Linked DNA regions of Homo sapiens. The protein of the gene in region 6 purifies or fractionates together with the protein of the main gene of each other region. This does not show direct contact. Each region holds a gene or a part of one and is shown on either strand. Other genes may lie near its edges.

Region 1 (5,431 bases), on a different chromosome or scaffold from region 6:
AGCTGTCCTTGCTTCCACGCAGTGCAAGAGGCATCCCTCATCCTCCAGCTTTCCTATCCAAGTGGGCTGAGTTCATTACCATCCGAGCAACCCTGCTCCACCACTGAGATCCTCCCTCTCAGACACTACATTTCCTTCTTTCTACTGCCACATTTCCACCAGCATTTAATTTCCTTGAGTCTCTCCCATCTTACACCACAACCTACCTCCCTTTTCTGTTACCTCTTTCCCCCTTCCTTGTCATAGATAAAGTTCATTAAAAAGCTTTGCCTCCTTTTTTTTTTTTTTTTTAAATAGAGACAGGGTTTCACCATGTTGCCCAGGCTGTTCTCAAACTCCTGGGCTCAAGCAATCCACCACCTGCCTTGGTCTCCCAAAATGTTGGGATTATAAGCATGAACCACCGTGCCCAGCCATTTTTGTTTCTTATTTACTTCTCAGTGACTGTACTTTGGCTCCATACTCAATAAACCACTGAAGTCTACTTAACTTGTTCTTATCAAGGTCATGAACTACATGGCTAGATACTATGTTGGCCTAACTACCTTACTTTACTACAGTACTGGACATTGTTGACTACTCTGTCCTTTTGAAACAACTTTTATCTTAGCTTTCATCATACTTCACTGCCATAGTCTTCCTATGCATTTTTTTTTTGTTTCCTTTGCAAGGTCCCCTTCTTCTAACCTGCCCTGTCTCTTAAACATGGGTGATCTGCAGGGTTCTATTCTTCATCTTGTCTTCTCACATTACAGACAACCATTGCAATGGCTGCACTTACCATTACTGCTAACTGTTACCCTATCAGTATCTGTAGCATGTGCATCTCTCCCCTAATCCAATGTCTACAGGCTAGCTCCAAATAGACATCCCACAGGCACCTCAAATTCAAAATATCCCCAAATTAAACTCATCTTTCCCCCCAAACCCAGCTCCTTTTTCTACATTCTTCTCATCTTCTACATTCTTATCTCAGTATCACACTATCCACCCAATTGCACAAATCAGAAAAATGACCCCACTTCAACCTCCTCCCAAATAAGTCACCCAGACTATTGACCAAACTTCCTCAGTATCTATTCAATCTGCCCCTTTTCTCATCCCATGTTGATTACCTTAATTTGGATTACTATCATCTCTCTAAAATGACTCCTCTGCACCATAACTGGTATAAATATGGATCTTGTCATTTTTGTGTTAATGTTCTTTCAGTGACACGTCACTGCTGCCAGTTCAAAAAGCAATCTCCTTACCATTTTTATCATCTAATGTCTGCCAGTTTCTTCTGCGACTACCTCTCATGTTAGCAGGAATCAGATTCAATAGCTATTAAGAAGTATTCATCCTTCCCCTTAAATTCTATTTTCCAGCAGCACAAAACTCTCTAGGCATTTTTTTTTTTTTTGAGATGGGGTCTGGCTATGTTGCCCAGGTTGGTCTTGAACTCCTGGGCTCAAGTAATGCTCCCACCTCAGCCTCCTGAGTAGCTGGGATTACAGGCATGTGCCACTGTGCTTGGCTCTCCATCCCCGATGAAGTCTCTCCATCCTCACTGAAGATTAAGTTATAGAACACCCTTACCCCTTGCTCTTTTCCTTTCCTTTCCAAAGTACTATTTATTACCCCAATTGTAATTTTATCTCGCCAACATGCTCTAAACCATCCTGAGGATTGAGACTGTAAGTGGTTCTTCCTTGTATCTCTAGTACCCAGCACAGTTTGTGGCACAGGAGTTCACTTAGTATTAGCTGAAATGAATTTTTAATAACTTTGCATTTTAGATCTCTATGAAGCCTTGGCATCCAGTCTAACACTCTCATTTCTCAGAAGAAGATACTATAGGCCCAGATGTGCTATCTTTCCAAAATCACAGATCTAAACCAGGTGTAGTGGTGTGCACCTGCAGTGTCAGCTACTCGGGAGGCAGAGGTGGAAGGATCGCTTGACCCCAAGAGTTGGAGATAAGCGTGTACAACATAGTCTCAAAAAACGAAACAACAAAAATCATAGGGCTTGTTTAGTAGAAGAGCAGCATCCAGACCATTTGATTCTTGGTCAAGGTGTTATCAGTGCGGTGCCTGTGATGAGTGCAATGATCAGTGTGATGAGTCCTTTGAGAGGACTTGGGAGCAGTGGGATGAAAACTGAGAACAGCTTATAAACTTATTAATTCCATGCCAGGACCTGACCTCTTAGTTATACAGGAAGAAGGTTAAGATATAACAGGGACAGTGAGAACAGGGGCCAGAAGACAGATTTAGTCTCAAAGTCAACAGTGGATCATTTACGCTGGTCCTGGGCAGCTGAAGAGGGAAGCAGGAGAAGGTTGCAACAGATCCTGAGAGCAACAAAGAATGACAGAGACCCAAAAGTGAAACGCCCGTGACTGAGAGAGGAAGGTAGTGACCCTAATTAAGAGTTTCAGGTAAATTACAGAATTCCAAAATGTGGGAATAGCAATTGTTTACCCAGGACTGAGTTTTTCTATTTTTTAAAAATTTGTGTAACTTTAAAAGCAATAGTTTAAGTGACTACTAGGCAGAGCTCATGTACTAGGGTACAGATTTCAACACTGTGTTGAAATACGGTAAATCTATCCTAATGTACAATATACAGTCACGCATTGCATAACAGCATTTCGGTAAACAACGAACTGCATATACGACAGCGACAATGCCCTCATAAGACTATAATGGAACTGAAAAATACTGCCTAGTGACACTGTAGCTGTATCATAGCTCACATCTGTGTAAACAAACCTATTCTGCTGCCAGTAATAGAAAGATGTAGCATGTACAATTATAAGTAGTACATAATACCTGATAATGATAAATGACTATGTTACTGGTTTATGTATTTACTATACTATTCTTTTCATCATTATTTTACAAAGTACTTCTACTTAAATAAAAAAGTTAACTGTAAAACAGCCTCAGACAGGTCTTCAGGGGTATTCCAGAAGAAGGCATTGTTACCAGAGGAAATGACAGCTCCATGCTTGTTACTCCCCCTGAAGACCTTCCAGTGAGACAGGATGCAGAGGTGAAGGACAGTGATATTGATGATCCCAATCTCGTGGAGGCCTAGGCTAATGTGTGTGCCTGTGATTTAAGCTAACAAAAGGTTAAAAATAAAAAATAAAAATCTAAATACAAAAAAACATATAGAATAAGGATATAAAGAAAATATTTTTGTATAGCTGTACAATGTTTAAGCTACGTGTCATTAGAAAAGGGTCAAGATGTTAAAAGTAGTTATAAAGTTACAGTAAGCAAAGGTTTGAAGAAAGAAAATTATTGAATAAAGTCTATAGTAGCATATAGTAATGTCCTAGGCCTTCATATTCACTCACCACCCATTCACACCCAGAGCAACTCCCAGTCCTGCAAGCCCCATTCATGGAAACTGCTCTATACAAGTGTACTTTTTTTTTTTTTTTTTGGAGACGGAGTTTCGTTCTTGTTGCCCAAGCTGGAGTGCAATGGCGTGATCTCAGCTCACCGCAAGCTCCACCTCCCAGGTTCAAGCAATTCTCCTGCCTCAGCCTCCTGAGTAGCTGGGATTACAGGCATATGCCACCATGCCCAGCTAATTTTGTATTTTTAGTAGAGACGGGGTTTCTCCATGTTGGTCAGGCTGGTCTCCAACTTCCGACCTCAGATGATCCGCCGCCTCAGCCTCCCAAAGTGCTGGGATTATAGGCATGAGCCACCGCGCCCAGCCAAGTTGTACCTTTTCTAGATTTAGATATGTTTAGATAACAAATACTTACTATTGTGTTACAGTTGTCTACAGTATTCAGTACAGTAAAATGCTGTACAGGTTTGTAACCTAGGAGCAATCGGCTATACCATATAGCCTAGGTGTGCAGTCAGCTATACCATCATGGTTTGTGTAAGTACACACACTCCATAATGTTCACACAATGACAAAATCACCTGGTGACACATTTCTCATAATGTATCCCTACTGTTAAATGATACATGACTGTACTAAGTACAATTTAGGAATATGAATCAGGAAAAGCACCTCTGTGTTTTAAGTGTTAAATGAAATTGTTTTGGGAGTCATTTTTGTGAAATCAGTCTGGAGCCCTTTTCCCTGGTGCTGTTGTCCACATCGGAATACTTCGAGTTAGAAAGGCCTTATCTACAAAAATATGTGTACGTACAAATGTACCCAAAGAAGAGATGGGCTGGGCCACTAGGAGTAACTCAGAACTGGCTTGCCAAGGGTGGCGCAACCTTTGCTATAATCAAGCAGGTGGGAAACCAGGAGACTATGGCTGCAGGTGTTAGCTCCAGCGCCTAGTAATACCTCCCTCCTTTCATTTTCTGTGTCTCTAACCCCTTAGCTCTATTCCGAATTTAAGTCTCCCATGAATGCACCTGACTGGAATCTAAGTCTCATTGGAAATGAGTCTAGAAAGTGTATTTTAGTTTTTTAGTCTTTGCTCTTCTAAGGGAAGATACAGTGAGAGGACTGTGGAACAGACAGTGCAGAGCCAGCTGATTGACTGCATCATCCAAAAGGCATGCCATGTGCCAAGGGTGTGTGCTCACGGGAGAGTGGTCCTCAGGGGATACAGCTTTCTGGAGAAGTGGTATCTACACTGAAAGTGAACCAGGTGATTTTATTGAAAAGTATTACCCCAAGTGAGAGGCTCATTAACGCTCTGCAAAGAAATCACAGTGAGCAGCAGAATGCCATCTACCTGCAGAAGAACCAGACTAATCTGGAGAGGAAATTCGCCTACCAGCTGAGCCAGGGCATCATCAGATGAAAAAGGTGAAAGAGCAGTATGAAGAACCAATAGAAGAAATCACTGAAATAGAAAATTAAGCTGTAGGTCATAGACCTTACTGAAGAAAAGGAAAAACAAAATCCAAAACAAAGCCAATAGCTGAGGCTTCATCCAGGCTTAGCCCAGGCTGTAGGAAGCAGGCCTGCCACAAACGCCCTGAGGGAAAGGAAATGAGCAACCCAAATACCAGACCCTAGTTCTGAGATAGCTTTGGATTTGAAAAGACAGGACAAGAGAAAACCAGTGAGACTCAAGGTGTCAGCTAGAAGCCTCCGAGGAATATCCTGAAGCGGCCTCAAAAGCCAGGATGAGAGCAAAGACAAAACTGTGTGAGGAAGAGGTGTTGGGGAAGGGGAAGGGGAAGGACTTGCCCAAACCCTGAAAGTGTCAGCTACTCTACTGGCGAGCCAGGAAAATTCAGAGGCTGAGGACCCTGAGTGGGACCAGCCTGTCATCAGTGAGGGTGAGGAAGAGCAGGATGTCGAAGAAGAAAGCCCAGGGATGACTACAGCGTGGCTTAAAATAAGGCAGAATCCAAAACAGACAAGGAGGCAGCCCCTGCAGAATAAGGAAACTCTAAATGTCCTTAATGCTGAAGATCAAAAGACAACGTAAGCTTACTTGACA
Region 2 (5,431 bases), on a different chromosome or scaffold from region 6:
ACTCATGGAAATAAACAGTTCATCAGCAACCACATGGGGTATAGATAGATCCCTGGCCAGAATGCCAGTGGCCCTGGGTAGCAGTTCCAACTGAGTCCTCACTATTATGCTGGAGGCATGTACAACAAGGGTCTGGACTGATAATTGCTAAGGTCCCTGCCAGCAATAAATCACAGGCCTCTGAGAAACAGGAGCCTCTATATGCCAAAAATATTTTTTAACTATCAACAGATCTCTATTTGAAAAACTATTACTATAGCAAGATAAGAGGAAACATGCACTGCTGATGCTACAGACTGGAATACTGACTCTCCACCTATTACACCAAAACAGATTCGAGATGAGGCGGGGGGAGGTAAAATTTCATGACCCGCTCCATAGGAATACTCAGAACTAGGGACAAATTCTGGTTTTAGCTGTAATACCAGCCATATCCTCTCACAGGCAGGAAAACAGAAACAAAATACAAGTGAGAGAAAGTGACATTATCTTAAGAATACTTTTCACACTATTCCAATAAAAGGAAACCATTCCCAAGTTTTAAAAATATCAGTTTTAAAAAAAAGCTAATAACACACCAAACCAAACCAGTAACCCAGGTTCTCAGTAAACACTGTGCATGGCAGCTGCCTAATGCTGTCCGGAACATTTTAATCTATTTAAACAATACCTTAGCAATGGCATCCTGTAATCGATTGGCATCATTTCGGGTATGAGCCAGATCTTCCTGCAAGCTACTAGCCAAAGTCTCTGCTTTTTCTTTGTCCAGCCTGACACTCTCCAGGAGGTCCTGAATATCAGATTTGTCTCCAGAGTTATGGATAGAATACAGCTCTGCCACTTTCTGCTTTTCATTCTCCAGCTGAGCCTTCAGGCGATTCATCTCTATCTGGTCACTGGCCACTGTGGCTTTGTATTCCTCTAACGTGGCTGCCAAGGCTGCTTTTCCTTTCTGCTCAGACTCAATAATTCGCTCCATATGGTGACTGCGTTCTTTGAGTGCCCCTATCATTTCTTGAGCTTCCTTATTGTCTTGTTCTGCCATTTTCAAAGTATTGCTTAAATGCTGCTGGACACCAAGAAGCTGCTCCCGTTCAAAACGGGCATTCTCAGCGAGGTCCATGTAACGTTGCTCTAATTCCATATAGCGCCCACTTTTTACATCTTCATCTATGACATAAGAAATGTGATGCTCATCTAGAAGAGAGCGGAAGTATTCAATCTGTCGACTAAAGTGTTCCAACTTATCGCTCTGCTGACATAAAGACTCCATCAGAATAACCTTCTCTTCTCCAAGCCTTTCGTTTTCACTATTCAGTTCCTGGGTAATCTGCTGTAAATCAGCTAGCTCTTGCAGGGTTGCCTGGAGTTCCTCACTTGTACTGTGTTGGTTCTCTTCCATCTGGTGTATCCGTTCAGTCAGGCAAGCCACGGACACTTCACTGGCATTCCCGCTGCTCCCCTTCCGGGAGCGCTCTATGCTGGGGATGCCTTCCGACTCTGAGGAGGATGGTGCATCCAGCGCATCATCGCTCGATGTGAGGGGCTGGTAGACCTCACTGCACTCACTGTCTAAATTGTCCATGGAGTTACTGTGCTGATGGTCCATTAGTGTATTTTCATCCTGACTCAAGAGATCCTCCACTGAGCCAGGGGCAGAGCCTTCCACTGAAGAAGTCAGAGTTCCTCCTCCATCGCTCTGGTTACCAGGGGTGATTTCTGGGCTCAGGGACTGATAGCCAAACAGTTTTTCAGAATTGTCTAACCTCTGCTCTAGGGAAAAGCCCAATGCATTCAACCTGTCCTTTAACATTCTGTTTTCATTTTTCAGCTGGTTGAGTTCTTCACGGATGGCAGTATTCTGTTCCTGCAACTGCAATAAAGTGGACTCCACATCAGTCGGCTGGTGAGCCATAATAGTTTCCTTCTCAGATTTTTCATCACCCTCAGAATGATCCTCATTAATGCCCAGCTGGGCACGCATGTCTCGCAGTTCATTTCTCAAATGTAAAATTTCTACGTCTTTGGTTTTTGCCAGCGTGAGAAGATCCTTCACTTTGGCCTCCAAAGCAGCTCTGTCACTGATCTGATTGTCTGACTTAGACTTGCTCATACGAACGTCACATTCTGTAGCAGTTCGACTGCGGGAACGTTTGGCCAATGCCATGTCATTAGCTCCCTGACCTGCAGAAGGTAGTTTTTTGCTCTGGTTTAATCGGGTACGTTCACGTAATCTTTCTCTAGTAGAACTGGATTCTTTATTACCTGTAGAAGTGCTCCGCTTGGTTGAAGAAGCTGTGCCTATGTGTTTAATACAAAAAATGTAAGGCAAAAATGTCAGCAATAAAAGGCTACATAGAATACACAGTTCCTGCCCCAGGTGTAATGAGATGAAATCCAGGATCTACACAATGATTTAGATCTACAATAATCTTGCCTTAGAGTCTGTTAAAGTTCAATTTCTTCAAAACCAGAAGATCATTCATCTTTTAATTATCAAGGAGAAATAAGTTATACACTTTGTTTTACATGTTTTTAAAAGAGTAAATTTTATGGAATGTGAATTACATTTCTACAAAGCTGTTATTTAAATGATATACATTAACTTGAATCCAGAAGTGGGGTTTTAACCAGTTGGCCAGAGGCATAATATTCTAGGGCAAGACAGGTGAAGATGACTCCAGGATTAGCCAGTCGGTGGTAAACTAACTGTACACAGATAGTGAAGGGAGATCATAGGTGGGCAAGAAGGGAAAAGCAGTCTCTGGGAAAACCAAAAATCTAAGCTACCTACTAGAAACACAAAAATTTTACTCTGACCAAAGTAAATGCAAAATAGTTTTAACACCATAAAATGCCACATAAATAATAACAATTATAACAATAGCTAACACATACCTAGCACTTGGTTATACAAATACATTAACACTTCACATACATTAACTTATATAAGCCTCATTAAAGACGTGAGGTAGGTGCTATTATCACCTTGTTTTACAGATGAAGAAACTCAGACACAGATGTTAAATAATTTGCCAACATGTCACAGGTAATAAATAGATGAGCCAAAATTGAAACCCAGGCAGTCTGGTTCCAGATTTTGCACCTTAACCAGTATGTTATACTGTCTCTCTAAATGTAAAAAACAACGAAGCACTAATGTTAAATAATGATGATGCGTCAATCAAATCTACGTGAATCACATGATTACTTAACTACTAAAATTTTAAACCTGTGAAAACTGACACAATCATTTGTTTAATACAAAAAGAACAGGAAGTTTTTTTTGTTCGTTTTTTTGGTTTTTTTTGAGATGGAGTCTCTCTTGACCATCACCCAGGCTATAGTGCAGTGGAGCGATTTCGGCTCACTGCAACCTCTGACTCCCAGGTTCAAGCGATTCTCCTTCCTAGGCCTCCCAAGTAGCTGGGATTACAGGAGCGTGCCACCATGCCTGGCTAATTTTTTTGTATTTTTAGTAGAGATAGGGTTTCACCATGTTGGCCAGGCTGGTCTCAAACTCCTGACCTCAAATGATCTGCCCGCGTCGGTCTCCCAGCGTGCTGGGATTACAGGCGTGAGCCACTGAATTTACAGGCGTGAGCCACCGCACTTACAGGCGTGAGCCACCGCACCTGGCCAGGAATATGTTTAAATACCTGTAAATACTTAAGAAATAACAAATTTTTATGTTAAAAAATAAGATCCACATCTAATCAATAAGTATTTTTAAAGACCCTGCTGGTTCATTAGGTGGTGGGATCCAGGCTGTAGAGGTAACAGGGAGCAAATGATCTCCACAGATAGAGGGAGATAGCCACTAACAGAACAGGTATACAGGAGGATGCGGAATTCAGGCTGGCAAAAAGACAGACAACGAAAGGAAGCAGAAGTGAACATGGCACACAGAAAGGAAAAGTACAGTCACACAGTTAACGGAAGCTGCTGGGGAATGTTCATATAGAGTCCCAAAAGATAGGCAGAATTCAGTGAGTCACACTAAGTCAATAAATGATCCTGAGTAGGAAAGAAATGTAAGGAAAAGTACATTTTATGAAAATTAATCTAGAGGATACTGATATGGTTTGGCTGTGTCCCCACCCAAATCTCATCTTGAACTGTAGTTCCCATAATCCCTATGTGTTTCGGGAGGGACCTGTTGGGAGGTAATTTAATCATGGAAGCAGTTACCCTCACGCTGTTCTCGTGATAGTGAGTTCTCATGACAGCCGATGGTAAGGGGCTTCCCCTTTGCTTGGCTCTCATTCTCCTCCTTCCTGCCACTATGTGGAGAAGAATGTGCCTGCTACCCCTTCCACCATAATTCTAAGTTTCCAGAGGCCTCCCCATCTCTGTGGACCTGTGAGTAAATTAAACCTCTTTTCTTTATGAATTACTCAGTCTGGGGCAGTTCTTTACAGCAGCATGAGAATGGACTAATACAGATTCTAAGTGGAATACATAAGGAAGAAAGCAGAGCAGCAGAGGAGGAATGTGGGCAGGTAGATCAATGAGGTAAAAGAGGTCCCACATTCAGGGGCGGCAGTAAGAACAGAGAAGAGGCAAGAAATCTGTGACAGATATCAAAGGCAAGAGTAACCAGACTGGGATAAACAACTGTATACGGAGGCCAAAAATGGAAAAAGATGGCATAACTTTTTTTTTTTTTTTGAGGCTCTGTCACCCAGGCTAGAGTGCAGTTGTGCCATCACAGCTCACGGCAACTCTACCTCCCAGGCTCAGGTGATCCTCCCACCTCAGCCACCCGAGTAGCTAGGACTACAAGCACACGCCACCATACCCAGCTAATTTTTGTATTTTTTGTAGAGACGGGGTTTCACCACATTGGGCATGTTGCCCAAGCTGGTCTTGAACTCCTAGGCTCAAGTGATCTGCCCACCTTGGCCTCCTAAAGTGCTGGGATTACAGGCGTGCACCATCGCACCTGGCTGGGGTAACTTTTTTCCCCAACATTAATTCCTTTCCCTAGTTCTGCAAGTGGTACCACATCCTTATCTAAATCAAAAATCCTTATAAAAAAGAAAATCTGGCTCTCCCTCTCCCCTCTCCCCTCTTTCCACGGTCTCCCTCTGATGCCGAGCCGAAGCTGGACTGTACTGCTGCCATCTCGGCTCACTGCAACCTCCCTGCCTGATTCTCCTGCCTCAGCCTGCCGAGTGCCTGCGATTGCAGGCGCGCGCCGCCACGCCTGACTGGTTTTCGTATTTTTTGGGTGGAGACGGGGTTTCGCTGTGTTGGCCGGGCTGGTCTCCAGCTCCTAACCGCGAGTGATCTGCCAGCCTCGGCCTCCCGAGGTGCCGGGATTGCAGACGGAGTCTCCTTCACTCATTGCTCAATGGTGCCCAGGCTGGAGTGCAGTGGCGTGATCTCGACTTGCTACAACATCCACCTCCCAGCAGCCTGCCTTGGC
Region 3 (3,500 bases), about 64 Mb from region 6:
TTCATTACTGATCCTAGGAAAATTTCAAATATTTACTGTCCAGAAACATCAAAGAAACAATTAAAAAAAAAAACCCTCTCAAATAATATTTTACCTGCATCTGTAAGACTGCATCGGTCTGTAACAGAGTAGTTTTTGCTTGGGCATCAAATACAAATGGATATGTACAGATTGTAACAGGGATATCTGCCAACTGGAAATAAAAAATTAACTTATTAGTACAAGTTGATTTGTGATATACTTACTGTGGATGCTGACATTTCTTATAAAGTGGACTACATTCTTTGTTTATTCACTCATGTGGTTCTGGAATTACAAATAAAACATGCTGCTTACAGAATTATTAAAAATTAAATGAGGCATTGGAATGAACCCAATTCCCAATTTTAGGGGGCGACTGTATACTTGAGAGTCTATACAATCATATACTGCAAGTATCTTTTGCTTAGCATATGTTAATTGCAAATCTCAGTGAATGAGGTTGCAAATTTGTTCTAAAATTGGGGGCTCCTATGTTAAATGCGATAGCCAATTCTTACATGTTAGGGCAACTGCAGCAACTGAGGCTAATGATAAGTAATCTGTCTATTCCTTCATTTAACAGATATTGAGTATAATGTCATTAGGGTATCAAAATTATTATGAGTCCAATAATCTCTTCATTTACTTAATATACAAAAAAGTACCATTAGTATTACTATTCTGTTAGCCTTTAAAGTTACGAGAACTGATCTATTATTATCATTATTAGACATTAGACACTTTATAGACAATTACTTATCCTGGCAGGTAATATATTGATTGCTAAGTATTTTAATAGTGCAGTAAAATATAAAGAGTTATGAATTGCCAGTCACACATTCTTGTAGTTGGAGGACGACCTACTTCTACCATCTACCCAGTAAAACAATATCTTTGTGCCTGCCCTGACTCAGAGCCCCTGCTATGAGACTTCTAATGAAGAATTAATACACCCTAAAACAATCCACTTCTTAGTGATTAGACAGTTCTTTATAGTCTGAATCTGCATTTTTTTTTCCCCCATACAGAGTCTTGCACTGATGCCGGGGCTGGAGTGCAATGGTGCGATCTAGGCTCACGGCAACCTTCGCCTCTGGGGTTCAAGCGATTCTCCTGCCTCAGCCTCCCGAGTAGCTGGGATTACAGGTGCCTGTCACCACACCCGGCTAATTTTTTGTATTTTTAGTAGAGATGGGGTTTCACTAGGTTGGCCAGGCTAGTCTTGAACTCCTGACCTCATGATCCGCCCACCTCGGCCTCCCAAAGTGCTGGGATTACAGGCGTGAGCCACTGTGCCCAGCCTGAATCTGCATTTCTATATATCACTATGCATCATTTAGTCTTTGCTTTGCCCCTGCTGGGAAGTGTACGTAGTTTAAATATTTTAAGTCCTAATCATGCTCTCCCTAAATTGTATTTTATTACATTCTAAACATTCACTCTTCAGTATTTTTCATGTGACAAGGTTTACCTCCATCCTATATTTGTGGCACTGCCTAGCTAATGATCATAAAAACTAATTTTACTTCTCTGAAATTCAAAAAGATTTAGATATCTCCAAAGCACCCTTTGGCTTCAAAACTCTATGTTTTCATAATTTTATGTGCTAATTCTATTTGACAATGAGGAAGCAAACAATATTAGAGCTATAATTTAAAGCTAACTCAAAATGCTTCATTGGTTCAAGTGCTGGGAAAAACATAGCAACCAACAAAATGCAAATCAAAGCAAAACCTGACATCTATAACGGATAAAGAAAGTATTATAATGTTCCCAAGTGTTAAAAGGGTAGTCTAGGGTTGTTGATTACTTAAACCAAAGTGCTAGAACTTTATATATTAGAAGTGAGAAAGATAATCATACAAAAAGTTTAACTTTGTGACCATTCTGAGTATCAATTAATCAATTTTAAAAATGAAGTTTGTTTTACTTCTCTAATATAAAATGTTTTCAGCCACATTAGGTAGGCATTTGCTAAATTTTAAAATAAAAGTTTGCTTTTTTATATTCTGAGGACACATTACATTTTATACTGGAAGACTTGAGGAGGACAGAAACTATTCTAAAGCAAATATTGTTGAGGCATCATATAGGTGTAATGTTAACAGAATTTCATTTTCTTCAGAAAACTTCTGAAATGTTATACAAGATAATCTCTACAGACTGTATTTTAAAAAATGATACATATATATCTATTTATTTACATTTTTTAACCACACCAAAAAAACGAATCTTTGGCTCTTCTATTACTCAGGAGAAAATGGAGTATATTTTACTCTAAACATGAGCTTTATTACACCAAACTTACCTCAGTTAATCCATGGTTGACATCCTAAGACAGCAGTGCAGAATATAACAATAACGAGGAAAGAGCAATATTAGTGTCCAAATTTAACTATTTCTATTCAAGGTAGCATTTCATATATTTTGCTACAGCAGAATATTGAAGTAATGAGGTAGAAAATACATCTACAATCAAATACACCCCCTACACAAGCATCTTATATATCTACTAATGTAAGATCTTTGTTTCAGGTACCTTGTGATCATAAAATGATTGAGGCTTGAACATAATGAAATTTGTTTTCAGCAATTAAACACCCCCATTTGCAGAATTTAGGCAGAATAAGAAAACTAATCCTATGCCTGGCTTGGTCTTAAAAAAAAAAATTTATGGCTCAGTTTTTCTACTTAAAAAAAATGGAAAAAACATTCCTCAGACTTTAAGACTTTAAAATCTCAGCAAAATGTCTGACAGTGTTTAGTAGATTAAAATGCCATATGGACACAAAGTAAGAAAAAATAAGCCATAAATTGTTTTTATTTGACAGAAAAAAAAACAGTAAAACATAAGGTATCTTACATTAAGCATTCTTTAAAACTGAATTAATTTAAAATAGAAAGTACAGGACAGGGAAAAAGGGTTGGTAAGCAAAAAGAAATGAAGAGAGAAAGATATATTTATTAAGGCAGTAATAGTGGAAATTATAATGAAAGCTTACCACTTTATTGAACAGAAATGTACATTTTCTTGTAGAAAGTTTCCACATATGCTCAGAGCACAGACTCGTGTAAAGCACCAGAATCTTCAGAAATATGTTACTAAATTTGTGGACGGTGCCTTGTGTTGTGAGGAATTAATTTTACCCCAGAAGAGAGGGCATTGCCCTGGGTTACTAGGAGGTGACCTATAGACCTGTGCAATATCATGCCTGATAGGAGTGTCTTTGTTTGCCTGGCGCTTTAGCCACTGGACAATGTGACTTATGATAGGGGCTTGGGCCATGTGCTGTCAGTTCTGCTTCCAGAAGAGCTGGGAACTAGAGGTCACTACGGGAGCAGGATGTGATTGAACCCCAGTAAAAACTCTGGGCACCAGGGTTCTGGTGAGCTTCTTTGGCTAGAAATACTCTGTATTGTTACACATCTATGCCAGGAAAGTAATTCATCCATGACTCTACATGGAAAGGACAACAGAA
Region 4 (5,431 bases), on a different chromosome or scaffold from region 6:
ATTTTAAAATGAGCAAAGGAATTGAATAGACATTTCTCCAAAGAAGACAGACAAATGGCCAATAGGCATATGAAAAGATGCAACATCACTAATCATTAGGGACATGGAAATCAAAACCACAATGAGATCCCACCTCACACCCATTAGACTGGCTAGCGTCAAGCAGCTGCTGTGGAAAACAGTCTGGCGGTTCATCCAAAATTAAACGTTGAGTCGGGCGTGGTGGCTTATGCCTATAATCCCAGCACTTTGGGAGGCCGAGGCCAAAGGATCACTTGAGTTCAGGAGTTCAAGACCAGCCAGGGCAACATAGTGAGACCCCAGTGCTACTGAAAAATTTTAAAATTAGCTGGGCGTAGGCTGGGCACAGTGGCTCACGTCTGTAATCCCAGTACTTTGGGAGGCCGAGGCGGGCAGATCACGAGGCCAGGAGTTCGAGACCGGCCTGACCAGCATGGTGAAACCCCATCTCTACTAAAAATACAAAAATTAGCTGGGCATGGTTGCGCATGCCTGTAATCTCAGCTACTTGGGAGGCTGAGGTAGGAGAATCGCTTGACCCCGGGAGGTAGAGGTTGCAGTGAGCTCAGATCGCACCACTGCACTCCAGCCTGGTGACAGAGCAAGACTCCATCTCAAAAAAAAATTAGCTGGCCGTTATGGTGCGTGTCTGTGGTCCCACCTGTTCGGGAGGTTGAGGTGGGAGGGTTGCTTGAACCCAGGAGGTCGAGGCTGCAGTGAGCCATGTTTGCGCCACTGCACTCCAGCCTGGATGACAGAGTGAGACTCTGTCTCAGAAAAAAAACAAAGAACAGCACAGCAGGCCAGAGACCCTCCTCTCAGCAAGGCCTGCTTAAAATGTGAGCCTTTGGCTGGTCTCTGGGAATTTGGATCTTAGGCAGAGGGTTCCCACCATTCCCTGTCTGAGAGGGGCTCCCTGTGCCTGGACTGGACCACACACCTGATTTCTCCTTTTTGGGGAGTCTAGAGTGTGGGTGCCAGGCAGAAGATGCCTATGTAATGGCCCAATAGGAAACCTGGGCATGCTGTGTCTAATGAGCTTCCATGAGGGACACACTGTTACAACTTGCTACTGGAGAAATGAAGCCTGTGGTGTGCAGCCCCACTGGGAGAGGATTCTGGAAGCTTCTGCCTGGTTTCCTTTGGACTTCACCCTATGTGCCTTTTCTCTTTGCTGATTTTGCTCTGCTATGAGTGCAACCATAGGCCGGGTCCTCCTAACCAATCAGTTACATAAAATACGCTATTTAAATTTTCAACTGTTTCATTTTACTTATTGTGGCTTCTAGAAACCCACAGTTGGCATACGTGCTCACCTGTCCAGGCACCTCAGAATGGCAAGTGCTTCAACACTGAGGTCAGTTTCCATTTCACAGGAGAAACTGAGCCCCGGAGAGGTGGGCACGGCTGAGGTCACGAAGTAATTACGAACAGGAGGACTTGGCTGGGTGCAGTGGCTCATGCCTGTAATCCCAGCACTTTGGGAGGCCAAGGTGGGCAGATCACCTGAGGTCCGGAGTTCGAGACCAGCCTGGCCAACATGGTGAAACCCCAACTCTACTAAAAATACAAAAATTAGCCAGGCGTGGTGGCAGGCACCTGTAATCCCACCTACTCGGGAGGCTGAGACAGGAGAATTGTTTGAACCCGGGAGTCAGAGGTTGCAGTCAGCCAAGATCGTGCCATTGCATTCTTGCCTGGGCAACAAGAACGAAATTCTGTCTCAAAAAAAAAAAAAAGAACAGAACTGGCAGGGCACCGTGGCTCACGCCAGTCATCCCAACACTTTGGGAGGCTGAGGTGGGCACACAGCTTGAGGCCAGGAGTTTGAAATCAGCCCAGGCAACATAGTAAGACCCTATCTCTACCAAAAACTTTAAAATTAGGCAGGGGTAGTGGCGGTGCCAGTAGTCCCAGCTACTGGAGAGGCTGAGGTGGGAGGGTGGCTTGAGCCCCATTGTTCAAGGCTGCAATGAGCTGTGACCACACCACTGCACTCCAGCTCAGAGACAGAGTGAGACCATCTCTTTTAAAAAAACTGAAAATGTAAAAACAGGGGGACGAGCTATGCTCTCCAGCCTAAGCAGCTGCTAACCCAGCCCAGGGCCCCAGCTCCAGTACTCACCCGACGGGCCTCGAGTGGCAGTCTTGGGGGTTGAGGACTTTCTGGACAGGGGTGCCCGGCCTCCCTTCTCACTGGGCTCACTCCGGGCACTGAGTGGTCGGCTGGCACGGTCCCCACCAGCAAGCCCCTTGGTTTTGGCAGCAGCCACTGGAGTGGCTTTGGGGGCGGCAGCGCGTGAGTTGGGGCGGGCCAGGGGCTTCCGGGTGCGGCTGACGTTCTCCGTTTGCCGTGCTGTCTTGGGGGGCAGCATCTCGGGGTCCACCATGCAGATGCTGGATGGGTCAGGCAGTGGTGGGGGGACCTTGAGGGGGTCAGGCAAAGGGTCGTGGCGAGGGACTCCAAAGCCCTCTGTGTCTTCGTCTGAGTCTGCCGCACCGGGGGCCAGGGGCACGGGATCCGAGTCAGACAGGGTGGGCAGGGACTCGCTGACCGATGTGGGTGGCGTCTCCTCGGCCCCCAGCCCACCTGCCCGTTCCTGTGACCGGGCACTGCTGTCATTCGAGCTGCCGGGGGACGCAGGTGCCGGTGCCATTGGCACCGCCTTGCGATGCTCAAATTCACAGGGTGACACCAGGCACAGGTCCACATCGTGTGGGGAAGCCGAGCGCCGCGCCCGGGGGCCACGCAGCGGGAGGCTCAGCCCAGCCTCACTGGTGGGGGCGGATGGCGGCAGCACCTGCTCAAAGGACACCGACAGGGACTCGTCCACCTCGGTCGAGTGCGGGGAGCCCACCTCTGCGGGTAGTGAGGGCGTGGTCACCGTGGGTGTGGTCACTGTGGGTGAGGCGTCTGGCCCGGCCTCCCCGCCCCGCAGTGGGCTCAGCGACAGCCGCTCGCTGCCCTCTGCGGGGCTCCGGTGGGACTCAGGGGAGGGTGTGCGTGGCCTTGGGATTGAGCTGGCGGCCAAAGGCAGCTCCAGTGCCTTCTCCTCCCCGGCTGGGATCGGCCCCAGCTCCAGGCTGGGCGTGGCCACCAGCTGGGAGGCCGGAGAGCCGCAGGCTGCACTGGGGGGGCTGGCTTCTCCACATCGGAGGCTGGGCGGGCTGCGGGGTCCATTTGCCACCGGCGGGAAGCCAGAGTGGGACGTGCTGGGCGCTTTGCGGGGCTTGGGTGCCGCCTGGGCATTCGTCTTCTTGAGGTTGGGCACAGAAGAGGCTGCCCGGCGCACCTCCCGCGGCTGGGTCCGGGAGACACTCGGTTTGGGGTCTTTCTTCAACTCCCGGGGGGTCTTGGCTTCTTTCTCAGTCTTGCGTGGGGCCTCAGCCCGTGCTGGCTCCTTGCGGGCCACCCCAGGGCGCTCCTGGCCAGGTCTAGGGTGGGTGGCCAGGAGGCCCTCTCTCTTCGAGCTGTCCCGGGAGCCCACGCTCTCTTTGCTCTCGGCTCGCCCCGGCCCCTCCAGGTCCTGGGGCGTCACCACGGGCTCTCGCAGGAACCTCAAGTGCTGCAGGCGGACCAGGCCGTCCAGGAGGCAGGCGGGCGGGGTGCAACCGGGGAACAGCACGCGCACCACCTTCTCGCCGGGGCCGGCGGGGTGCCACACCAGCAGGGCGCACACAGAGGCCAGCGTGCGCTCGGCGCCGGCGGAGGGCGGGTGCAGCACATACATGTCCAGCCGGCCCACGCCCATCTTCTCGAAGAGCACGGTGGGTTTGGCTGGCACGGGGCCGCGGCTGAGTGGCAGAGGCGTGATGCCCAGCTGCGCCAGGAGGCTCAGCGCCAGCTCCGCCTCATCCTCGCCGCGCGCCAGCCGCGACGCGGCCTCGCAGGCGTTGAAGAACACGACCCCCAGGTTGGGGGAGATGAGCCTGCGCAGCCTGTCGTCCCAGGAGCCCCCACCAGCAGCCACCTCGGAGCGCTCCGCCAGTTTGCGCCGCAGCAGGCTGTTGAGGCCGGGGAGGCTGTCGGCGCCAGGGTGGGTCACCAGCACGGCATCCACGCGGTCCAGGTGCCGCACCAGCTTCCAGAAACTGGACTTGGGGTTTGAGCCACCGTTGACCAGCACAGTGAAGCCATTGACGGCGAAGAAGGCGGCATCCCCGAGGCCTCCAGGGAAGATGTAGCAGCAGGGCCGGCCCAGCCTGAGGAAGCCCCCGGAGGTCGGGGGCTCCAGCAGCTCGAAGGGGGACGGTGGCTCCAGAGACTCAGCCACGTACTCCAGGAATTCGCACAGGCCCTCAGAGTTGGGCAGCTGCGCCGGGGGGTTCAGCCGCAGCTGGAGCCGGAGCGCCCCCTGAAGGCCAGGCACAGCGGGTGCCAGCTGAGCCCAGTCACCGAAGGTGGGGCAGGTGATGGTGAGTATGGGCGGCTGCACAGGTGGGGGCGTGGTGGCCAGGATGTCCCGGATCTGTATGGAGGAGGAGTGGTAAGGGACCACCTAGAGCCAGGCAACACCTAGCCCGGTGGGAAAACTGGGCGAGGACACCCTCATCCTTTCCCCCAGGGCCTGCTCCTCAGGGCCCTCCCGCCAAAACCCAACCCTCTCCAGCGCCACAAGGCTCTTTGATCTGGCCTCACCTCCTGTCTCTCCCTCCCCTTCAAATGCCTCCCTGCCCCAGGGCCTTTACACTCACCATTCTCTCCTCCCAGGGCACAGCTCCCTCCAAGGAGACTCTCCACGCCCCACCTGTCTACTGAACCTTTTCTCACCATTTTTAAGTGCCCCACTACAATGTGAAAGTGAGGTTTGCCATTTTGCCCATGTGTCCTACCCAGACTGCGGGCACCAGGAAGGACCCATTTGGCTCCATCCCTCATCAGGACTTTGGGACATCTGCTGACCTACAAACTCAGCTCACACCACACCCTTTCGCGGGCAATGGGACTGACCCCAGACAGCCAGGAGGCATGTGTCACCACTGCCATCCTACAGAGGATGGGGAGACCAGGCCATGGAAAACAGCAGGTCGCTGGTGCCACACAGCCTGATACACCCCAGTCAGGATTCAGAGCTGGGGAAGCAGGGGATGGCAAAGGGGTGGCTTACCTCTCTGTCCTTCAGGACCTGGAGGAAGTGGTGAGGCGAGAAGCCCCCTGTCTGTAGCAGCAGCTCCCCCGTCTCCTCCAGGCAGGGCCCAGCCAACACCAGTAGCTTGTGAGAGGCAGGGTCCAACAGAAGGTTCCGGAGCTGAGGGAGGGGGTGAACACTAAAGGACCCGTTCTGTGCAGTGACGTATCCAGCAGTCCTCTTTGGGGTAGCCTCGAGTCGATACATAACCACCCCTCTCCTGTCCTCACCCCACGACCAGCCCAGTGCTCAACTAGCTACGAAGGCAGTCTCCAGGTCTC
Region 5 (5,870 bases), 6.5 Mb from region 6:
ATTTATAGTAGAAAATATTCTTTTAACTCCAATTCAGAAAGCTACTGACATTAGATAGACAAATTATCAAATCCTTCTGGGCCACAGTTTATTCATCTGAAAAATGAAGGGGTTCCATCAGTTTCTAATTCTATTCTATTAGAGCATAGTCTATTCTACTAGATCTATTCGTAACTTCTCTATGAGAAATGGGACTTCTTATTATTCACACTATATGGTCTATTCTAATTCTTACATCGCGAGAATCTAGAAATGAATTTCATGATAAAAATACTGGTTGCTTGCTTTAAAACTTAAGAGTAAAATATGGATCTCACTTGAACAAAAACTTGAAGTCCAAATACAACAACAAACTGAATAATAAGTATTTATTAACTATCTAATGTTGGGGCTCAGGACATACCTCCCCAGAATATGACTGAAGGAGACCAGAATATGTGACCCCAAAATATGCCTCCTTTGCACATTTTGAGAAAGTGTAGACATAGGAGTAGCTCTGAAAAGTTACCTTTTTAAAGATAAATTTGTGCCTATACAAGAAATCTCTGCTTATAAGGGCATCTCCCTCTCTGCAACAGGAGGAGATGACTAAGTAAAGAAGACATCGACTTACATCTTCATAACAAACTTCACCTTCATTTAAGGTGCTTTTCCTGGCCATCTCATCTTAACAGGGTTGTTCCCCACAACCTTTTTTACTTTGTTTCAGAGAATGATGGTATTTAAGCCCAAAATTTAAATGCTTTCTTTGAGATCTACTCTAGAGACTTGCTCATTTCTCTGGGGTTTTCCCGTGTATACATGAGGCATACATATTAATACACTTCTGTTTTTCTTCTGTTAATTTGTCTTTTGTTACAGGGAGCCTCAGATAAGAGTTATGAAGGACAGAGAAAATTATTACTTTTTCCTTCTCTACACTACCTTGTTTTTCTTGGTGTTTTTTTTTGTTTTGTTTTGTTTTCTTTTTTTTTTTGAGATGGAGTCTTACTCTGTCACCCAGGCTGGAGTGCAGTGACACAATCTCAGCTCACTGCAACCTCCACCTCCTGGGTTCAAGTGATTCTCCTGCCTCAGCCTCCCAAGGAGCTGGGACTACAGGTGTGCATCACCATGCCCAGCTAATTTTTGTATTTTTTAGTAGAGTCAGGGTTTCACCATATTGGACAGGCTGGTCTCGAACTCCTGACTTCATGATCTGCCCGTCTCGGCCTCCCAAAGTGCTGAGATTACAGGCATGAGCCACAGCGCCCAGCCTTTTCTTGTTTTTTTTTTTTTTTTTTTTTTTTTTGAGACGGGGTCTTGCTCTGTTGCCCAGGCTGAAGTACAGTGGCATGAACATGGCTCACTGCAGCCTTGACCTCATGGGCTCAAGTGATCCTTCTGCCTCAGCCTCTTGGGTAGCTGGGACCACAGGCACGCACCACCATGCCCAGCTAATTTTTTAATTTTTTATAAAGTTGGGATCTTGCCATGTTGCCCAGCCTGGTCTCAAACTGCTGGACTCAAGCAATCCTCCTGCCTCAGCCTCCCAAAGTGATGGGATTATAGGTGTGAACCACTGCACCTGGCCCACTATCCCGTTAAACAAACAAACAAACTTTAATTGAGAGGCCATTAGGCTGAGGCAATGACAGAGCTCTAGAAGGTCCCACATAAGCAAACTAAAGTCCAATGTAAACAGTAAAACCATACTAGACTTTATCAATCAGAAACTGCCAACTATTCCCTAACTCGGAACTTTCCACTCTAACCAATTTAAATGTCTTTTGTCTTACTTTCATGTTCAGCCTATAAAAGCTCACTGCCCTTGCTGCTAGAATGGGGCTCACTAACCTCCAATGGTTCTGAGTGCTGCGTAATTCATGAGTCATTCTTTGCTCAAACAAACTCCTTGTTTTTTTTGTTTTTTTTCTGAGACAAGGTCTCTCACTCACATCGCCCAGGCTGGAATGCAGGGGCATCATCACAGCTCACTGCAGCCTCAACTTCCCAGGTTCAGGTGATTCTCTCACCTCAGCCTCCCAAGTAGCTGGGACGACAGGCATGCAGCACCATGCCCGGCTACTTCTTTGTAGAGACGGCATTTTGCCATGTTGCCCAGGCTGGTCTTGAACTCCTGGGCTCAAATGATCTGTCCACCTTGGTCTCCCAAAGTGCTGGGATTCCAGATGTGAGCCACTGTGCCTGCTCCAACTCTTTAATATTTTAATATCCCTAGGTTTATCTCTTAATGATCCTAATTCTTTCCCCCATCTTAGACCCCAAAGTGTGTGGCCCCAGGCCTGGATCATATTTAGTTGCTCAGTTATTTCTTATAGTCAGGAAAATCAGAATTTCCTTGTGCTTTTGATTTCAGTAGCTCAGCCAGCTTCACCAGCAAGCACATCCACATATCTGGATTCTCAGACCACTGGGCACTGAAACAGAGCAGTTAATCCCCATACCCATGCTGAGGAAATAACACGCATCACATCTTTTAAAATATCATATACACAATGGATCATTTGAGTAAATTTAATACTAGGATCATTTGAGTAATTTTAATACTGCTCTATAGACAATTCAGTGGTACCCTAAACACAATTAATTTCTACATAGATATTATTAACTTTTCAGCTAGTATTAGTAAAATTAATAAAATTAGGTACGTGATTTAATTATTTTATCTGAATAATGTTTTGTTTTTTGTTTTAGACACTATTATTAGAACACTAGGCTGTGACATGTCATTAAATAACAATTAAAAAATCAACACATACAGCAAATTATTTTTTGTAGTGGTTACTCACCTGAGCGCTCTTACCACATTTAGCATCTCCTGAAACAATCACGATTTGATTTTGAAGCAGGTTCTCCATAAAGGAGTATTTTTCTTTCCATATAGGAAGATCTTCTCTTTCTTTCAGAAGTTTATAATAACGTGATGAATATGGCAATCCATCAAAGGGGTTAAGTTCCAAATCCTCACAGGCCAAAACCTCTTCCTCATCCCCATCGCTGGAATCCAGGGATTCAGGAAAATAGCGTTTTTCAGAGGAAGAGTTTGGACACTCCAGCCCTTCTTCTTCCATCTTGTCTGACAGTGAGCTCACGCAGCTGACATTCCACAAGCAAGTTTCTCCTATCAGTAACCCATTGCAAACAGGGCTTAAAAGCCTATTTATACAAACCCGTATGTTCCAATCTCTAAGACTTCAGTTCAAGGTTTTAGCAAGTTAAATTCCTCAAACCTGCATCTGTTCTCCGTTGCTGTGTTACCCACTGTGCTGGCTCACTACAGCACTCTTCGGCATTGTAAATGATTGTCAATAAACCACACTAAGAAACAAACAAACAAAAAGAGTAAGGAAAATTAGGAACACATATAAGTTAAAAAGAAAATGCACAGGAGTTCAAATGAAAAGCATTATTTTTTTTTTTTCTGTTAACGGGTTTCTGTCATTTCTGCTGCCTGCTTAAAAGAACAGGAATAATTTAGGCTGGTGTTTAAAGTTTGGTGGGTTCCGGTATTTCCTGGCTGGTTCAGAAAATGATTCTGCACTGGGCCTCGTGCTCTCTGCCTGACCTCTATCTCAGGCTCTGCGTCTTGATCAACTGTGAATGGAAAGCAACAGGAGGGACAGGATTGTGATTGTGAGGCTAATCAATCACGTGGTCACCTAATCCCATGTCAAAAGAGGAGCTGGACCCTATAAAAGGAAAGAACTGTGATGACCTGGTGAGTGTTCCTCTAACACAGGCTACAGGAAAATCTATTATTAAGAAATCCTTTACTTTAATGAAAAACATTTTTAAAACTTTTCATTTTCCTTTTGCTTATGTCAGTTTAGAAAGCCAAGTGAGGGGAATGAATTTATTATTTCCTTCCATATGTAGTTATGGTTGGCTTTTATTTTATATATATATAAAAAAGACAGGGTCTCGCTCTGTCACCCAGGCTGGATGCAGTGGCGTGATCATGGCTCACTGCAGCCTCAACCTCCCAGGCTGTTTTCCCCCTGCCTCAGCCTCCTGAGTAGCTGGGACTACAGGTGTACACCACTATGTCCAGCTAATTTCTGTATTTTTTTGTAGAGACGGAGTTTTGCCTTGTTGCCCAGGCTAGTTTCGAACTCCTGGGCTCAAGTGGTCTGTCCTCCTTGGCCTCCCAAAGTGCTGGGATTTCAAATGTGAGCCACCATGCCCAGCTGGCTGGCTTTTATTAATAAGGTCTTTTGTTTAATTAAACCAGAAATCTCTAGCATATTTCTTGAGATTCCTGGGTCTTGAGCCCAACATGTCAGCTCCAAGAGGCCATTAAGGACAACTTTTAATTTAAATGAAGAAGAGAAATCACCCAAGAAAGAGCAAGATTTATACCAATAACTCAGTCCCCACATGTCAGGTGAAGGGTCTTTCCCCTTCCAATTACTAGTGATTAAAAAGAAAAATTCCATTAGTGTTGCTGGAAATAAGCTCCTTTTCACATTAACCAGATAAAAATGAAAAAGAAAACTCAAGTTAAAAAGAATAATAAAATACAGTTCATGATATTTTGTAAGTTACTGCACTTTTCGGATCACCTGGTTTACCTTAATTATTGCTTTAGATGGTTGGAGCCAGTGTGCTCAACAGCTAGTTCCTAATTAGTAAGTGATAAGAAAAGCTCTCTCTCTATTGGTCAAGACAGGCTCCAGGGCAACAGTCAATCACTCAAAAAACATTTGCTGAGTGTCTTCTAAGGGCTTATTAGATGAGTAAACTAGGCACTAGATACACACATAAAGGATATTTTGAAGATGGCAGCAAGAGCAGGATAGAAAGTTTTAAAATTCACAGATGAACAAGCTAGTTTAGAGGTAAGTAACCAGAGAGGCAGAAGAACTTCATAGCTCTTCCCAAGTAAAGTTCTTAAAAATTCATCTAAAAGCCAGTGTTTCAAAATTAAAATGGAATTACAAAGGCATAATAGAAATGTTGTAATATGGATTCACTTCAGAACTCTTCACTGCCTCTATAAGGTGAGAGTAGACCCACAGAATAGCTCCAGGAAGCATGGTAGCTTGAGATCATCGCACAAGCTAATTCTGGGAAGGTATCCAAGAATCAGAAAATTCCACTCTTCAGAGAAGTTAAAATTTAATTTTATATTCTATTTTTCTTTTGTTCTGATTAGAATCCCTTCCAAGGGTTCTCAGCCTACATGTAAATTAAATTGCTATTAAATATTATAACCAATGATTGCCTTAGGTAGTATTTCTTAACTGTTTTACCTTAAAAAAAGAACAGCTATTATTTTTACCAAAAAGAAATGTTTCTCTTATTTATAATACTCCCTAAGAGTGTAATAATCTTATAATTACAGTAAATTCTTACTTATAAAGCACTGACCACTTTGAACCCTGAGGAAATAATCAAGTTTTCTGAATAGTCTTCTTTCTAAAGACCTGAGACTTACCTGGCCCCTTCATCACACATTGTGCAATGTATCCACACACATTAGCCTTAACCACTTCTCTGTTATAGTGGAATTAAAGATGGCCACAGATTATTTGCCACTGTTCCAAATGGAGAGGTAGAGTCTATTTCCTCTCCCCTTGAATCTGAGCTGGCCCTGTGACCAGTGTCACTATGACTAAAATAATGCAGTTAAGTGATACTGAATCACTTCCAAGATATTCCCATGCTTGAAACACTCCTCTTTAGAACCAGCTGTCATTCTATGAGGTACCCACGCCCAAGCCACCGGGAAGAGACCAAAGCTGAACTTCCAGTCCACAGCAGCATAAACCTTCAACCATGTGAACAAGCTGCCTAAGATGCCCCAGCCCAGTCGAGCCTCCAGATGACTGCAACCCCAGCCAACTGAGCAGAAGCAGCATCCACAG
Region 6 (5,431 bases):
TGATGCAGGCCCCACTGGGAGCACCTGACCCTCCCACGCAGGCCCCACCGAGCACACCTGACTCTCACGCAGGCCCCACTGGGTGCACCTGACCTTCCCATGCAGGCCCCACTGGACATGCGTGACCTTCCCACACAAGCCCCACAGGACACATGTGACCTTCCCACACAAGCCCCACTGAGCACGCCTGACCTTCCTACACAGGCCCCATGAGACACGCCTGACCTTCCCACAGAGGCCCCACCAGACACACCTGACCTTCCCACACGGGCCCCACCGGACACGCGTGACCTTCCCACACAGGCCCCACTGAGCACGCCTGACCCTCTCACACAGGCCCCACCGGGCGCGCCTGACCTTCCCACATAGGCCTTACCACTTTGGAGGGACTTTTTGCATGTGTACACAGGGCAATCTTGCCACATTTAATCAACATTTCTGCTTCCCCTCAGATCACTTAGAATCTTTGTTTCTAAGTAATGTTTAGCCCATTATGCCTGCTTTTCTTGTTTGGTGATGCTTTTGTTGACTTTCTCAAAACACGACCTCAGAGAGGCACTCCAGGCACTTTGGGAGCCACTGGGACCTATTGGCCAGTCTTCTCCCAGCACGTGCCCAGCACGACCTGAAGGCTGAGTGAGACCCCAGGTGGCCGTCGCAGTGGACACAGGCGCATGGACATCACGCCCCTGGCTGCCACATGCTCCTGACTGCTGCGTGCTCAGGGTCTTAGGTTTGAAAGGAAAAGTTTTAAAAAATGGGCAAACATGCTTCAAAACGTCCTAAGAAGTTGTAAAATTCCCCCTGGGGTACAAGTGACTAGAAACATGCATATTTGACCAATCTGCCTGTGGACAACTGATTTAGGGCCAGGGACAAAACTGAAATTCATGAAAATGAAAGCAAACAGGAAGAGTGGGATACAGCAAAAAGACTTTTATTTATTTATTTATTTTTTTAAGACGGAATCTCGCTCTGTCATCCAGGCTGGAGTGCAGTGACACCATCTTGGCTCCGCCTCCCGGGTTCACACCATTCTCCTGCCTCAGCCTCCCAAGTAGCTGGGACTACAGGTGCCCACGACCACGCCCAACTAATTTTTTGTATTTTTAGTAGAGACAGGGTTTCACCATGTTAGCCAGGATGGTCTCAATCTCCTGACCTCGTGATCCGCCCGCCTCGGCCTCCCAAAGTGCTGGGATCACAGGCGTGAGCCACCACGCCCGCCAGCAAAGACTTTTTAAAGTAATTGAAAGGACAAAGTACTAAAAATATACATAGTAGCTGAAAAATCACTCTATGTGGCCCTAAAACCTAATAGAAAAGAGTCAGAAAATACTTATTTTTGACCAGTTACTTAATGTATTTTTTTCAAACTTACAGAAAAGTTGCAATAACACCGCTGAGAAGTTGATGGACCCCGCACCCCATCAGCAGCCGCTGGTGCCTGGCCCCCGAGGCTGCTGCCCCCATGAGCCTACCCGCCCTCGCCTCTCTGTCTGGGGTGCTCATGCATTTCCTAAAACACTCAAGGGTAACTTCAGACATCCTGCCCCTCCACCCTCAGATGGAGATGCTCACACATCGCCATAGCGATTCACCAAAACCAGGAGCGTCCCATCGCTGACTTCTGTCATTTACTGGCTGGCCTTCCTCACACCTTGATAACTGTCCCAGTAATGTCCTTTATCATATTTGTCCTGGCCCAGGATCCAATCCAGGATGAAGCATCACATCCAGTTTCCTATTCCTTTAGTCTCCTTCAACTGGAATGAACCTTCAACTTCTCCTCTTTTTTATCCTGATCCTCCAGCAGGGTCTGTCCGTGTCTCCTGTGCTCCCTGTGTCCTGGCTCCGGCTGTGCCTGACGGTTCTGCCCCTCCATCCTTGTCCCAGCTGTCTCCAGGTCCTGGTCCTATCTCTCCTCGGCCACCCCATGCCCTCAGCTACCTGCCCCCACTCCTGCCAGGTGCCCAGTGCCCTCCACACTGCCAGTCCAGCGGCTACTTTTCTTTTCCTATTTTTATCACAACATCCTGGCAGCATCGGGGTCAAGGGTGCCACAGCCAGGCGGCTTCAGCGCAATGCCCCAATGCAGCCACTATAACCTGGTTAAAATATGTCTACAAACAACTCAGCAAGCACAGGGCCAACAGCTGACTCTTAATCATTTAAAACAATTTCCAAATAGAGTCCATCTGGGTCAAAAGTGCAAGGCCACACGTTATTTACGAAGACCTAACCCACACATTTCAATTGCAGCACATCTATAATCACCTTGGCTAATGTTCCAAACATGCATTTTTCTTAAGTATCAAAGTACATCACAAATAGTAAAATTTTAAATATTCTGACAATATTTCAGAATATGTACTTTTTTTGGCAAGGCTTCATTATGATTCTCCTTTATCCCAATTTAACTTTACCTTTTCCAAGTGTAACTACAATGCGTACTCAAGACCAGAACACATCATGAGCATCTGAAAATACCTGGCTGGTCAGTATGTTGAAAGAATGGAACAGGTTAGTGAGCACCCACCAACAAGGTGATTAGATAAAACATGTCTACAGGGCCATTTTCCTGCTAATTTCTTGTACCTCGTTAGGAATAAGGAATATTTCATTGTACTTATTTTAAAATAGCTGCCTAATGCAGCATCAAGTCATTCCTGAAGCAGCCGCCTGCGGGTGGCTTGGAGGTGATAACTGTTTCATTTGATTGATCACAATAAACTTCTACCAAAATCCACTTGAGCCAGGATCTATAATGTGCCCAGATTTATAGAACCAAGGAAAAGTCACAGAGATGACTGGGTCGGCCTGAGATCAGTGTACACTGTGTCAACTCAGCAGAGGACCCATGGCTCCTGTATTTCTCAGGATGTTATTAAAGAGAAGACAGGTTCTGCCCTGATTTTAAAAAGCTGTAACTTCAACGTTAATGTGATTTGTCATAAATCACCTCCTACAAACCTTGAGAAGTTGGATTTCTGGGGAGAGAGTGTTCTACTGCCCACATCCGCAGGAAGCGCTGGATAGCCACCAATCCCTTCTGCACAACGAGCTGAGGAGGGAATTCCAGAGGGCAGTGTCTTAGGTTCAGTGCTTTCAGCGTGGTTACGCTCCCTGCAGTGGAGGAAAAAAAAACTGTCAGCATTCTATATACCATTCTTGAAATGAAAATGAGGAATAAATAATAGTAACTTTTCACATTTTAAAATATGATTCTATTCAGTATTTGGGGGAAAATCACGTTAACAGATGTCAAAGATTTGCTTTAAAGGTAACTCTGCAGGAGACGGATTCCGCAAATTAAGACCAGGATGGTTTCCAAAAAACAAATAAATAAAATCAAACAAACAGAAGCAGCCACAACCACCTTCACAATTCTGTAAAATTCAGAATACAAAGTCGCTATATTATCTAAAATGCCCATTTTCCACATAAAAACTACCAGACATGCAAAGAAAAGGAAAATGTACCCTACACTCAGGAACGGAGCAGACAATGGAAACTGTCTTGGAGGAGGCCCAGATGTTGGGTTTAACAAAGACTTCAAAGCAACCATTTAAATATGTTCAAGCAAATGAAGAAAATTGTGTTTAATTAGAAGAAAATAGAATACAAGGACTCCACAAATGTGAAATGTCACTAAAAATGGAAATTATGTGAACTTGGAGGCTTTGGAAACGATGGCCGCTGAGAGGTAAGGCTCCCGTGGTGGGCAGTGGGCTGGTGGGGGCTGGCTCACTCCCCAGGCTCAGGGCGAAGTCCCCGGAATGAGGAGCACGGGGAAGCACTGCAGGGGCCCTAGTCCTGTGGCGTTTCCCAATCTGAGGGAGCCAGGGTTCAGTGTGAAAGATGGATGCTTGGATTTTGGGTATTTGGGTGTCCCACCTTTCAGCCGCGCTCGCTTTTCACATGTAGGTTAAGTATTAGGCTCTACAAACTGCAAATGCCTTGTTGGCCCTGTCCATTAATGGGCTCTGCCCTGAGCTCACTGGTCCAGTTGGAAAACAGAGACTAAACTAGAAGCTACCTATCTAAATGAAATTCGTTTCCTTATCAAATCCTGTGGCAAGTGACTCTGTATTATCTTGTCATCCATTTTTAGTCTTCAAACACACCCAAACTCCTTCTTTAAAAAGCTTAAATTCTCTCTCTGTTCTTTGAAGTGTAAATTTGCTATTCTGTTTTCTCTAAAACTGTGTAAGGGTTCCAGCCATAACTCGTTCCATTTACAAAGGCACAATTTAACCTAACTGTTCTTTTATTTTTGTTTTTTGTTGTTGTTGTTGTTTTGTTTTTAGAGAGAGGGTCTCGCCCTGTTGTCCAGGTTGGAGTATAGTGGTGCAATCAGAGCTCACTGCAGCCTTGAAGTCCTGGGCTCAAGTTAGCCTCCTGCCTCAGCCTCCTAAGTACCTAGGAACACAGGCATGCACTACTGCACCTGGCTAATTTTATTTTATTTTATTTTTTGTAGAGATGGGGTCTCACTATGTTACCCAGGCTGGTTTCAAACTCCTGGCTTCAGGGGATCCTCCTGCCTTGGCGCCCCAAGGTGCTAAGATTACAGGCATGAGCCACTATGCGTGGTCTCAACTGTTCTTTTAAACTAATGAGTTTTATCTGATTCATGGCTAAAAATAAAATCAAAGCTATACAATCTTAATGTTTGTACTTTTATGTATACATGCGTATACATGTCTGTTTTTATACTGTCTACATGGTAGCAAGTGACTTACAAATAAATGAGTACTCATAAATTAGTTCTCCAAAATGCTTCTCAAGTTCATAATAGAAATGCCTTCAGAATTTTAGACATTTTTTCCTGGGCTACTAGTCCGACAAATTTATACTGTTTCTGCTAGATATTTTAAAGGTCATAAAACTTGCTTCTGTGATAGTTTACGCTTGTTTGATTTGTCTGTCAGTTTATGCTTTTGGTTTTGAGTGTTTAGATTCTGAAGTCTAAAAAAGTGGTCATGATGGGGCCTAGGAACATACGTAAGTGGTAAAACTTCCCAGGAAGGCCAGCGAGATGCAGCGGAGACAGCACGCAGGGCCTGCAGAGGTGTGTGCGGGGCCTTCAGTTTCCTTAGCTGTGTGACGGCGCCAATGGCCCTCACTGTGACTGTGCCTCACACAAGGCTCACACGTCACACCTCCATAAGAACAGTACGTGCTATATCAACAGTTCTTGAGAGCTACATTATCTTGGTCCTAGAAGTAGGAAGGATTTTTAAAATATCTAGCTTACCCTCCTTTGTCATGCCTGATACTTCCATTACAAGGTCTGGCAAGTTCAAAAGATAGCATTTTAAAATCATCTTTTTATTATTTTATACTTACCCAGCTCCACAGGTAACATTTTGATAGGATTTCTTTCTAAAAGCAAAGTTTTCAAATGCCTTTAAAGCAAAACAAAACA

What was found.
Region 1: the proteins of LRRC27 (region 6) and FERMT2 purify together in Homo sapiens (co-immunoprecipitation; one large-scale study listed by IntAct). This does not show direct contact.
Region 2: the proteins of LRRC27 (region 6) and SPECC1L purify together in Homo sapiens (affinity purification with mass spectrometry; one large-scale study listed by BioGRID and IntAct). This does not show direct contact.
Region 3: the proteins of LRRC27 (region 6) and HERC4 purify together in Homo sapiens (co-immunoprecipitation; one large-scale study listed by IntAct). This does not show direct contact.
Region 4: the proteins of LRRC27 (region 6) and MAP1S purify together in Homo sapiens (affinity purification with mass spectrometry; one large-scale study listed by BioGRID and IntAct). This does not show direct contact.
Region 5: the proteins of LRRC27 (region 6) and DHX32 purify together in Homo sapiens (affinity purification with mass spectrometry; one large-scale study listed by BioGRID and IntAct). This does not show direct contact.

The regions. Positions count from the first base shown.
Region 1 is NC_000014.9:52,866,825-52,872,255, forward strand, and holds part of FERMT2 (fermitin family homolog 2), read right to left. Parts: intron 1-5,431. UniProt on the Homo sapiens protein: Scaffolding protein that enhances integrin activation mediated by TLN1 and/or TLN2, but activates integrins only weakly by itself. Binds to membranes enriched in phosphoinositides.
Region 2 is NC_000022.11:24,318,158-24,323,588, reverse strand, and holds part of SPECC1L (cytospin-A), read right to left. Parts: intron 2,302-5,431; coding exon 671-2,301; intron 1-670. UniProt on the Homo sapiens protein: Involved in cytokinesis and spindle organization. May play a role in actin cytoskeleton organization and microtubule stabilization and hence required for proper cell adhesion and migration.
Region 3 is NC_000010.11:67,956,784-67,960,283, forward strand, and holds part of HERC4 (probable E3 ubiquitin-protein ligase HERC4), read right to left. Parts: intron 2,354-3,500; coding exon of another isoform or gene 2,330-2,353; intron 194-2,329; coding exon 95-193; intron 1-94. UniProt on the Homo sapiens protein: Probable E3 ubiquitin-protein ligase involved in either protein trafficking or in the distribution of cellular structures. Required for spermatozoon maturation and fertility, and for the removal of the cytoplasmic droplet of the spermatozoon.
Region 4 is NC_000019.10:17,724,888-17,730,318, reverse strand, and holds part of MAP1S (microtubule-associated protein 1S), read right to left. Parts: intron 5,271-5,431; coding exon 5,130-5,270; intron 4,491-5,129; coding exon 2,147-4,490; intron 1-2,146. UniProt on the Homo sapiens protein: Microtubule-associated protein that mediates aggregation of mitochondria resulting in cell death and genomic destruction (MAGD). Plays a role in anchoring the microtubule organizing center to the centrosomes. Binds to DNA. Plays a role in apoptosis.
Region 5 is NC_000010.11:125,877,751-125,883,620, forward strand, and holds the start of DHX32 (putative pre-mRNA-splicing factor ATP-dependent RNA helicase DHX32), read right to left. Parts: upstream 3,543-5,870; 5' UTR 3,075-3,542; coding exon 2,793-3,074; intron 1-2,792.
Region 6 is NC_000010.11:132,342,193-132,347,623, reverse strand, and holds part of LRRC27 (leucine-rich repeat-containing protein 27), read right to left. Parts: intron 5,412-5,431; coding exon 5,353-5,411; intron 3,127-5,352; coding exon 2,974-3,126; intron 1-2,973.